Linked DNA regions of Homo sapiens: all the other regions are reported to be linked to region 3. The links are microRNA targets in miRTarBase. Many come from high-throughput screens and were not tested one by one. Region 3 holds a microRNA gene; each other region holds the end of a gene's coding sequence.
What was found. Region 3 holds the annotated microRNA hsa-miR-3162-5p (UUAGGGAGUAGAAGGGUGGGGAG, at 1,235-1,257, opposite strand). A microRNA usually pairs through its seed, bases 2 to 8, with sites in the 3' UTR of a target mRNA and lowers its output. Matches are read on the target gene's strand: a 7mer-m8 pairs with bases 2 to 8, a 7mer-A1 pairs with bases 2 to 7 and ends in A, and an 8mer does both.

Region 1: the mRNA of RTKN is a reported target of hsa-miR-3162-5p. Seed matches in the 3' UTR shown: 8mer at 2,445-2,452.
Region 2: miRTarBase lists MYBL1 as a target of hsa-miR-3162-5p. Seed matches in the 3' UTR shown: 7mer-A1 at 1,564-1,570.

Annotation. Positions count from the first base shown.
Region 1 is chr2:74,423,580-74,426,670 of GRCh38, forward strand. It overlaps RTKN (rhotekin), which reads right to left. Exons shown (of 12, transcript NM_001015055.2): 12 at 2,256-2,995. The coding sequence ends at 2,664. It overlaps WDR54 (WD repeat domain 54), which reads left to right. Exons shown (of 10, transcript NM_032118.4): 6 at 276-403; 7 at 1,296-1,396; 8 at 1,496-1,658; 9 at 1,838-1,912; 10 at 1,991-2,176. The coding sequence ends at 2,122. Among named protein-coding and RNA genes, the nearest start is that of WDR54, 3.4 kb to the left of the region's middle. RefSeq lists an enhancer at 2,861-3,091.
Region 2 is chr8:66,562,036-66,565,126 of GRCh38, forward strand. It overlaps MYBL1 (MYB proto-oncogene like 1), which reads right to left. Exons shown (of 16, transcript NM_001080416.4): 16 at 140-2,790. The coding sequence ends at 2,662. Among named protein-coding and RNA genes, the nearest start is that of MYBL1, 50 kb to the right of the region's middle.
Region 3 is chr11:59,593,893-59,596,892 of GRCh38, forward strand. It overlaps MIR3162 (microRNA 3162), which reads right to left and starts at 1,266; the gene lies at 1,185-1,266. It overlaps OSBP (oxysterol binding protein), which reads right to left. Exons shown (of 14, transcript NM_002556.3): 8 at 118-363.

The DNA of each region.
Region 1 (3,091 bases), not on the chromosome of region 3:
TGTGGCCAGGAGAATAATGAGGGCCTGAGGAAATTGTGGAAAGTTAGAGGGAAGGGTGGAAGTGGAGTGGAATCAGAGACTCCAGTAAACCATGGAAGGGTTCAGAGGGTCAGGGTGGGATAAGACAAGGCTAGTGAATGAAGGGGCATGGCCGTTGGAGCAGTGAGAGGGGGTTTTGTTACTAAGGTTTCTGGGATGGAGTAAGTGTTGAGTATGGTGGCTGGAGACCCAGGAGGGTCAGGAAGTCATCACTGGAGTACTGGTTCTGGATACAGGAACGTGGTCAGGCCGGGTGCTGGTGTTTGACATCCCAGCAAAGGGTCCCAACATTGTACTGAGCGAGGAGCTGGCTGGGCACCAGATGCCAATCACAGACATTGCCACCGAGCCTGCCCAGGGACAGGTGAGTGGACTTCCCCTACCCATCTGGGAGCCTTCCCCACCCTGGGAGGCAGGGGACCTGGCTTTGAGTCTTGGCTCTGCCACTAAACAGGTGGATGGCTTTGGGCAAATCTACATTTTCCTAGTCTTCAGCAACCAGGTTCAGTGATAAAGCCAGAGATACTTTACATTTATGTAGTATTTTATAGTTAATTAAGACTTTATAATACTGATGTGAAATGAGGAGTTGGAACAAATGGTTTCTAAGATACTTTCCAGCTCTGAAATGTGCAGCTTCCTTCTCTAGGGCAAGTCCCACCTATTCAGGCCCAGCTCCAGTGCCATCCATCCTCTCCAGGAAGCCTTCCCCATATTCTAGCTCCCACTGATGTCTCTTAGCTGAAACCTGAATTGGCACTGCCCTCAAAAGACAACTCTTGTCTCCCCAAGTAATTTGCAAACCTCTTGAGAACAGGGTGTATATTTTCTTATTCATATTCTCCATTGTACCTGGCATAGGGCTAGGCCCATAGGTTGTGTTGGCTGCCTGGTGTTGGGGGTGCAGGGGCCCAGGGTCTAGTCATGACTGTGACTGGTTCACTACGAGACCTCCAGAAGGTCACGACACTGTGGCCTCAGTTTTATCATCCATCCAGTGAGGCAATTATGCACCCCCTCCTAATGTTATTGGGGGATGGGACTCCATGAAGAAATTCAAGGAAAGCAGTTCATGCTTCCCAAGGGAACCCTGGTGGTAGGGGTGGTTTCTGATGGGTCTAGCTAGTGAGAGCTCCACACCTTGCCCTTTCCCTGGAGAGGCAAAGATGCACACACTGCCTCCCTTCCCCTCCTGCCCTGTATACAGGACCATAGCAGGGGAGAAAGGGAAGGGTTGATCTTGCCTTTCCCTTCAGGATTGTGTGGCTGACATGGTGACGGCAGATGACTCAGGCTTGCTGTGTGTCTGGCGGTCAGGGCCAGAATTCACATTATTGACCCGCATTCCAGGATTTGGGTAGGTGAGGCAGAAAGGGTAGAGGGCTTCCTGAGATAGCTTCAGGCTGGGGAGTAGGATTTGATCTGGGCAAAACAAAGTTGGGTGTCACCCTTGCAGAGTTCCGTGCCCCTCTGTGCAGCTGTGGCAGGGGATCATAGCAGCAGGCTATGGGAACGGACAAGTGCATCTATATGAGGCCACTACAGGAAATCTACATGTCCAGATCAATGCCCATGCCCGGGCCATCTGCGCCCTGGACCTGGCTTCTGAGGTGGGCAAGGTAAGTCTCCTCCTCTGTACCTACATACCCTTTTTCCTGGCAGTGGAATGTTGAGAGAACACCACAGGCTTGTCTTTGCAACTCAGTGTAGCCCCCTCCCCTGGGGCACCTGGACTGGGGATTCCAGCTTATAGCTGTCCCGTCAGGGCATTCTGACTCCCCCTCTTCCTCCTCCACAGCTACTCTCTGCAGGTGAGGACACCTTTGTGCATATCTGGAAGCTGAGCAGAAACCCAGAGAGTGGCTACATTGAGGTATGTGTCATGGGGTGGGTGGAATGGGGGGGCCCAAGCATGGGGCAGCAGGCCCTGACGAGCCCTCTGCTCCCCCAGGTGGAACACTGTCATGGTGAGTGTGTCGCCGACACCCAGCTGTGTGGTGCTCGATTTTGTGATTCCTCAGGCAACTCCTTTGCTGTGACTGGCTATGACCTTGCGGAGATCCGGAGATTCAGCAGTGTGTGAGAAGAGCAGCCTTCCTTTGTCCCTGTGGTATTCATAAAGTACCCGCTCCACCCAGCCTTTGTCTGATTACTCAGTATCACAGTCATGTTTCACAGCTGGTGAACTATGCTCCAGGGATGATGTGAGGCAGGTCTAGACCAGGCAGAGAGAGGCACCCTGTCCTCAGGAGCCAGGTGAAGGCTGCTGTTAAATAACTTTAATGGTTGATGTGGGAGTCACAAGGGAGGTATGTTTGCTCCAAGGGTTCTTCAGTGCCATCCTCAAAGCTGGTTAGTGCAGGGAGGTAGGGCAGAGTTGGTTCCAGTTTTCTTCCAGGAAGGGTTTAGGGAGGTCCCAGCGAGCCCCAGGAATGAGTCCCTCGGTACCATGGCAACCACAATTTAAGAGGGGCTTCTGCCCACCCCTGCAGCCTACCCCAGGTCCAGCAGAGGAACAGGAGGCCAGACTGGCCAACTTGCTATAGACAGCGCCGTATCCAGAGCCCAACTGCGCATGGGTCATTTTCTCTTCTGGGCAGATCCTATGCCAGCACCTTTCTCTCTCACACTGGTGACTGGAGCCAAGTGCGAGGTTGGCCTTTGCTGCAGAGGCCTCTGGTCCGTGGGGATCGCTGAGGTGGGAGGGGGGCAACCGAGCGAGCCCTAGGGGAGTGGTCTGGGGGGACAGCATCCAGGGAAAAGGTTCGGGGTCTCCCCCAGGGCAGGGGGTGGGTCCAGTCTGGGGCTGGGGCCACTGAGGCAGGCGAGCAGGGGTTAGGCAGGGCAGGCTGGTCTGTAAACATTGCCAGCCAGGGTGGGGGTGTCTCCAGCCTTGCGCCCTCCCGCTGGGTCAGGATGTCTGTCACCGCTGCGATGTCATCCAGCGGCTCAATAGCTGTGGCACCAGGAAGGGGTTGGGGGAGGGTTGGGCTAGTCAGAGCTCAGGCCCCAAGCCTACCCAGCCCTATCACCTGTCACTGTAATAGGAGGA
Region 2 (3,091 bases), not on the chromosome of region 3:
CGCAATGTTGTATTTATTGGTAAAATCACCGTAAAGAGAGTTCTAAATGAGAAAAAAGGCCTAAGAACAGAATGTTAAGTCTCTAAGGATTCTATCAGTCCTTATAAAGCACAAAACCAAGTGAATGAGCAATGCCAAGTCAGCTTGTACACAGATGCTTTATTTTGGATGTTAATATGTCAACATTGTATGCAAGATTCTCTTACAATGAAGTTTTCCATATATCACAAAACTCAATTTAGTCAGGGTAATTGCTGTATTAATGTGAAAACCTTACAATAAAATGCAGTATTATGTATGTGTAGTCAGTTTCCATGCAAGTATGGCTGCTACATGTTATGTCTGGCATTTGTATAACATACTGAAAGAAACTCAGAGGAACAAAACAGTATAAAGGTGACTTAAGATGCCTGACATGTTTAAGATAAAAAATCTTGCAAAAAGCAACAAAGCAGTTAACTGAAGGATTCAACCAGTACCAACCCAAATATGTATTATGTCCAATAAGCCCAGACTTATCCACAATATATTACCATTTAGGATAATTTAATGCTCAAGAAAAAATATGCTTTAAAAAATATAGCCTTACAAGATATTATACTTTGGTGATTGCAGACTATGTATATCCAGGTAAGGGCTACATTAAAAACAACAACAACAAAAAACCATTATGTGCTATTAGTTCAAGGTAACTGAAATGATCCAGTATGAGTTTGCTACAATCATTGGTTTCACTAAGTGAAATTTCTGTGAGAAGTTCATTAATTAGAAAGCAATCAACATACTTAAACATGCTAAGAGGATTCAAATTGGTTTATCTATTTATCAATAAGGCATAATCTTAGTACCATACATTTTCTTCACTTCTCACTATATATATATATAAATATATATATATATAAAATATGCAAAAACTAGCAAGTAGATTTAAATAGCTTAAAACCCTTTTAGGTCTACTGTTCAAGAGCTAAGCATTAAAATACTTAGTATTTCCATTTCTATTAACATACAAACAGAGCAGAAAATCTTAACCTGCTTTCATTTTGTTTTATAAGGCATAGTAGTATTTTGGTATTTGCAAGAATTTGCCTGGTAATGGTTGATTCCATTTAGTTAACTTGAGAACTTGCCATCATTTGTTTTTTATCTTTTCACACAGTGCAAGTGGTGGTCGCTCTTTCCTTCTCTCGTAGCAGCAAGCCGATTCTGCTATTTTCTATAGCAGCATACTTCAGGAGTGGAGAGGGAGAGAGTGTGTCAATTATAAATAATTCAAACTACAGTGTACAATTCTATTTACCTGTCAGTGTTTAAGTTGACAGCACACCATTATATGACTGAAAAAAAATTACATATAATCTCTACCACAAAAGCAAATAAAAATTCTTTCAAGAAGAAATAAAATAAGTGCAAACACCTAAAACAGGCAACTGAAGCAACTGTTGTAACCTGTAGAGAAACACAAAACATTTAAAAAAGGACAAAATATTTTTATAAATAAAAGATAATGTTCTCCACTTCTGAAACACTGAGTAAATATAAACTTCTAAGTGCAGACTGTTTTTAGGGACCAAGGTACCATATTATTTTTTAAACAAAATGCAAAAATTTCAAACACATATACAAATCACCAGATTAATGTATATGACCACCCCCGATATAATTTAAAAAGAAAATATTAAATTATTATTTAGTACATTTTTAGAACTACTTTATAACCAGCATGATTTAAAGGGCATAGTGCAACATTTAGGTAGATGTGACATACAGTATAGATATTGTATTCTTTGCAGCTATAACTTACTACTGTTTCATACTTAAAGTCAAAATTATTCTTTACTGTGTTAGCTGTAATAACAGGAAACAACATTGGCTTCTAGGCACCCTGTATACGTATAAATATCTACATTTAAGCTTTAAAAATAAAAATAAATTATAAAAACAGACTTCTTTCCAATTTACAAAGTTCTCCTGCTCCTACATACTGTACAATACATTCAACAAAACTCTCAGCTCCTCTGAGATTAAGAAAATACTATTTACTAATAAAGAAAAAACTCTTTTTTGAATGCTTTTTGTTTTCAGTACTATGCTCAAATAAATACATTTAACACTGTAGTTAATTTTACTGCTTCTGAAAAAAAAAACAAAAAATTAGTAGTGCAACTTTCTATCCTTCCTTTAAATTCCTTTTCAATGTGTTTCTTTGTAAATGGTAGCCTAAGTAAATCAGCACATGGGCAAAAGTACTTCATAAAATCATGTGTGCTTTCCATACATAGACTAATTTCAGAAATCATATATACTCATACACCTATCTATAACAAAACTGCAGCATCAAGAGAGTAGCAACATATATCTTGTGAAGAAAATATATGAGAATTTACTTTTAGAAATCCATGAACATTCTATTATTTTCCCATCTTGTTCTTTAAAAACAATTTTTAAAAATCTCATCTCTTAAAAAATAAACTATGAAACTATCTACCCCTTAAGTGACTTACTAGCTTTCTGCCTACTATATAGAATAGAAAAAAGATGCTGTATTAAAAGGGCTATCTTACAACTTTAAAAACAACTAATTGAGAAAAATTTCACTGCAACCTAATTTAGTAGAGACTGCAGTAAGGGAGTGGGGCATTTCATCAATTTTAATAACAATTACAGTATGAGAGCTCTTGAAGTACTACTGGTAGCTGTGTAAGTACTCAGATATCTTCTTGCTTGTTCAGTCATAATAAGTTGGTCTTCTGTCTTCCCATAAACCACTGTTTCCCATTCACAATTTGACTAGAAAGGAAATATTAATAGTGACATGAAAATTATTAAAATAGCTATCTATATCACAATTAGACTCTTAAAGTCAGTTATTTTAACTGATTAGATATTTTATAAACAATAATTATAAAAATGTTTTAACAATGGCACTGTATTTTTTTAATAATAATGTTTTAAAATATATACTGAAATATTTTTTATCAAGTTTTTAAAAAGTCAATTATTTTAGCTATCTATATTGCTTACAGGCCTATGGAGGCAGTTTAAAAGTCTTGTCCCCAATAATTCCCCCCAAATCAAATGAGTCTTAACA
Region 3 (3,000 bases):
ATAAAAGCTGGGATGACAGGGACTAGAATTTCTGCAAACATAAGACCCAGGGGATTAACCAAAAAATCATCTCTTTCTTCAGAAAGGAAATGCGTTATGGTTCTGAGGTTCCTTTACCTGTTCACAGAGGGATCGGTACCCATTCTCCTCTAATCGGTCCAGCTCAAAGGTCTCCCCAAGCAGTGGGTTGAATGGCTTACTGGTGCGGAAGACAGTAGTGGAGTAGGAGGACACGGTGAAAGCTGCAACATAACAGAGCTGTTCTAGAGAATTCTCACATTTTGCAGCTCGGTCTAACAGCTCATGGTATTCCAGATCTTCAGTAAGGCGCTGAAGCATGGACAAGGGCTCATTAAAGTTTACCTGTAAGGAGAAGAACAGATATAAAAACTATGCTCACTCATCTATAAGAGACAGTTTAATTTTTTTTGCAGTTTAGGAAATAAATCACTGGGAAAAGAGGGCTTTGCTCAGTAGAGCGGCTCTAATATTTAACCCGCAAACAACCCATTCTCCTTGTCAACTGTTCATGTCTGTGAGTGGCAGAAATCACTGTTTTCATTTCACTAACTGTAAGCTCTTTGAGATGGGAACCATGCCTCTTCTGTTGAGTGCTACATACCCAAGATCCATCAGTGACTGGCCCACAGAAGACTATCATCAAATAGGTGTTGGATGAATAAGTTTTTTAAAAAAGAAATGCAATGTATTTTAGCACAAGTATACCCAGAGAGGAAATCAGGTATTTAAAATTCTTGGAGAATGAAAGAAACAGTAGTAAATTATAAGTACAGCTATATCCTGACTAGTTATAAAAGTTAGTTTCCACCCTGGACAAAACAATTGCTAAATCTCAGTTCAGTTCTGCATCAGGCCAGGATTCTGATTTCTCCTCTGAGGCTGGATAATTGTGTTTCTGGGAGTGAAGTGCTCATGATGGGGGTTGAGAGGGGGCTGTGCATGCTCTTACCTTTCTAATTCTGAAGCCAGCTTAAGGCGACCAAGTACTGGATAAAGCAAGCATGTGTGTGTTTATGTGTGTGTGCCAGGAATTGGGGGCTTCTGTTGGGGGAGATGTTCATTCATTCATTTATTCACTTACTCATTCCACAAATATTTATTGAGTACCCATGTGTGCCAGACCCTATGCTACCCACTGGATAGAGAGAAGTTAACAAGAGAAGCTGACTTTTTTGGGGAGTGGAGGGGTAGGGAGTGAGAAACATTGTTCATGCTCCCCACCCTTCTACTCCCTAAAAAAGTCAGCTTCAAAATTAACTTTGAAATTTTAAATGATTTTACTATGTAAAAATTCACTATAAAACAAGTCAGGTTCCCAAGTTAGTCCATAAAGCTTATTTAATTAACAATATAGATGAACAAGTCTAAATATTATTAGCCTGAGTTCTAAGTCCAGAGAACAAAAGAAGAAAGAAAAAATTCCCTTTTAGTGAATGGTTCTGGCCTTAAGCAACGCTTTACTTAAACAAACAAAAAAAACACAACACTTTTCTTTCTGATGTTCCATCTCTTTTGGCATTTTTGTTCACCCTTCTACCCACCAATCTCTGAGCTACATATTACCCTAATATTTGCTATCCCCCCACCGCCCGCTCAATCATGAAATTAATATCGTATAATTTTTAACTGTAAAAAACTTTGAAAACAAAGTATCAAGGAAAAAATTTTCTTGAAATGAGATCACCACTATTAACATTTTCAGTTTGTTTCTATACATTCATACATTTTTAAAAGTAATAAACTTGGCCACGTGTGGTGGCTCATGCTTACAATCCTAGCACTTTGAGAGGCTGAGGCAAGCGGATTGCTTGTGCTCAGCAGTTTGAGACCAGCCTGGGAAACATGGCAAAACACCATCTCTATAAAAAAAAAACACAAAAATTAGCACGGTGTGGTGGCGTGCACCTGTAGTCTCAGTTACTTGGGAGGCTGAGGTGGGATGATGGCTTGAGCCCAGGAAGCAGAAGTTGCAGTGAGCCAAGATCATGCCACTGCACTCCAGCCTGGGCAACAGAGCGAGACTCTGTCTAAAAATAAATAAATAAATAAATAAATAAATAAATAAATAAATAAATAAATAAATAAAATTCATAAACTAGAGCCTGCTTTTTCTCTGAGAAATATCCCAAATGTTTCTCTGTGAACATTTTCCAGTGAACACAGAGCCACAGAGCCAACAACACTCATCCTTTGAGAAATAGGACCCACCAAAACAGTGTGCCATACCCCAGAGCCCTCTTCCCTACACTGAAAGACAAGCAGTATGATGACACAAATGCACACTGAGGGGTGGCGCGCTGCAAAAGCCATAATCCTCGATTCTTTTTAAAGAGGGCACTTATTAACTACACCCAATAAAATCTGTCCGTGGCAGAATTTAGACAATACGAAGTAACATTTCCATACATTTTGAGGAAAACTGGGGACAGGCAGTGTACTCCACTGGTGGTACTAGACATACCAGCAGTGCATGGGACTAGAATCAGCACATTGCTATCACTGCTTTTCACACACACACAGCCTTGCCCATCAACAACCAGTTTCTCCAAAAGTGCCAAGCTTCTTATAATGGTCATTTTATTACTCAAAAGCCAAACAGGGAAAGAAATGAGTCTGAGTATTTAAAGTAGAAGGAAGCAGGGAGCTATACAGCTGATGAAAAATTAGGCACCCAAAAAAAAAAAAGACAACCCAGAGATTAGCAGCAACAGGAAGCCATAACCATTGGTAGGGTGGAGAGATGGGGAGAAGCAGCAGTATTACTACAGCCTAGAGGTGGGGGTCCAAGAGAGGAGGATCAGGAGAATGTAAAACATCAAGGCAGGGGAGGCCTCTCCAGTGAAAACTAGAGCCACGTAGGTGCGCCAGAGCACCACTCAAGAGGGCATAGAGGGAGAGACTTCCCACGGCTATAACCTCCTACTGGTATCTTGCATTAGTGAAGCCCAGCCAGACTCCAGTAGCCACGGAAGCCTGAAA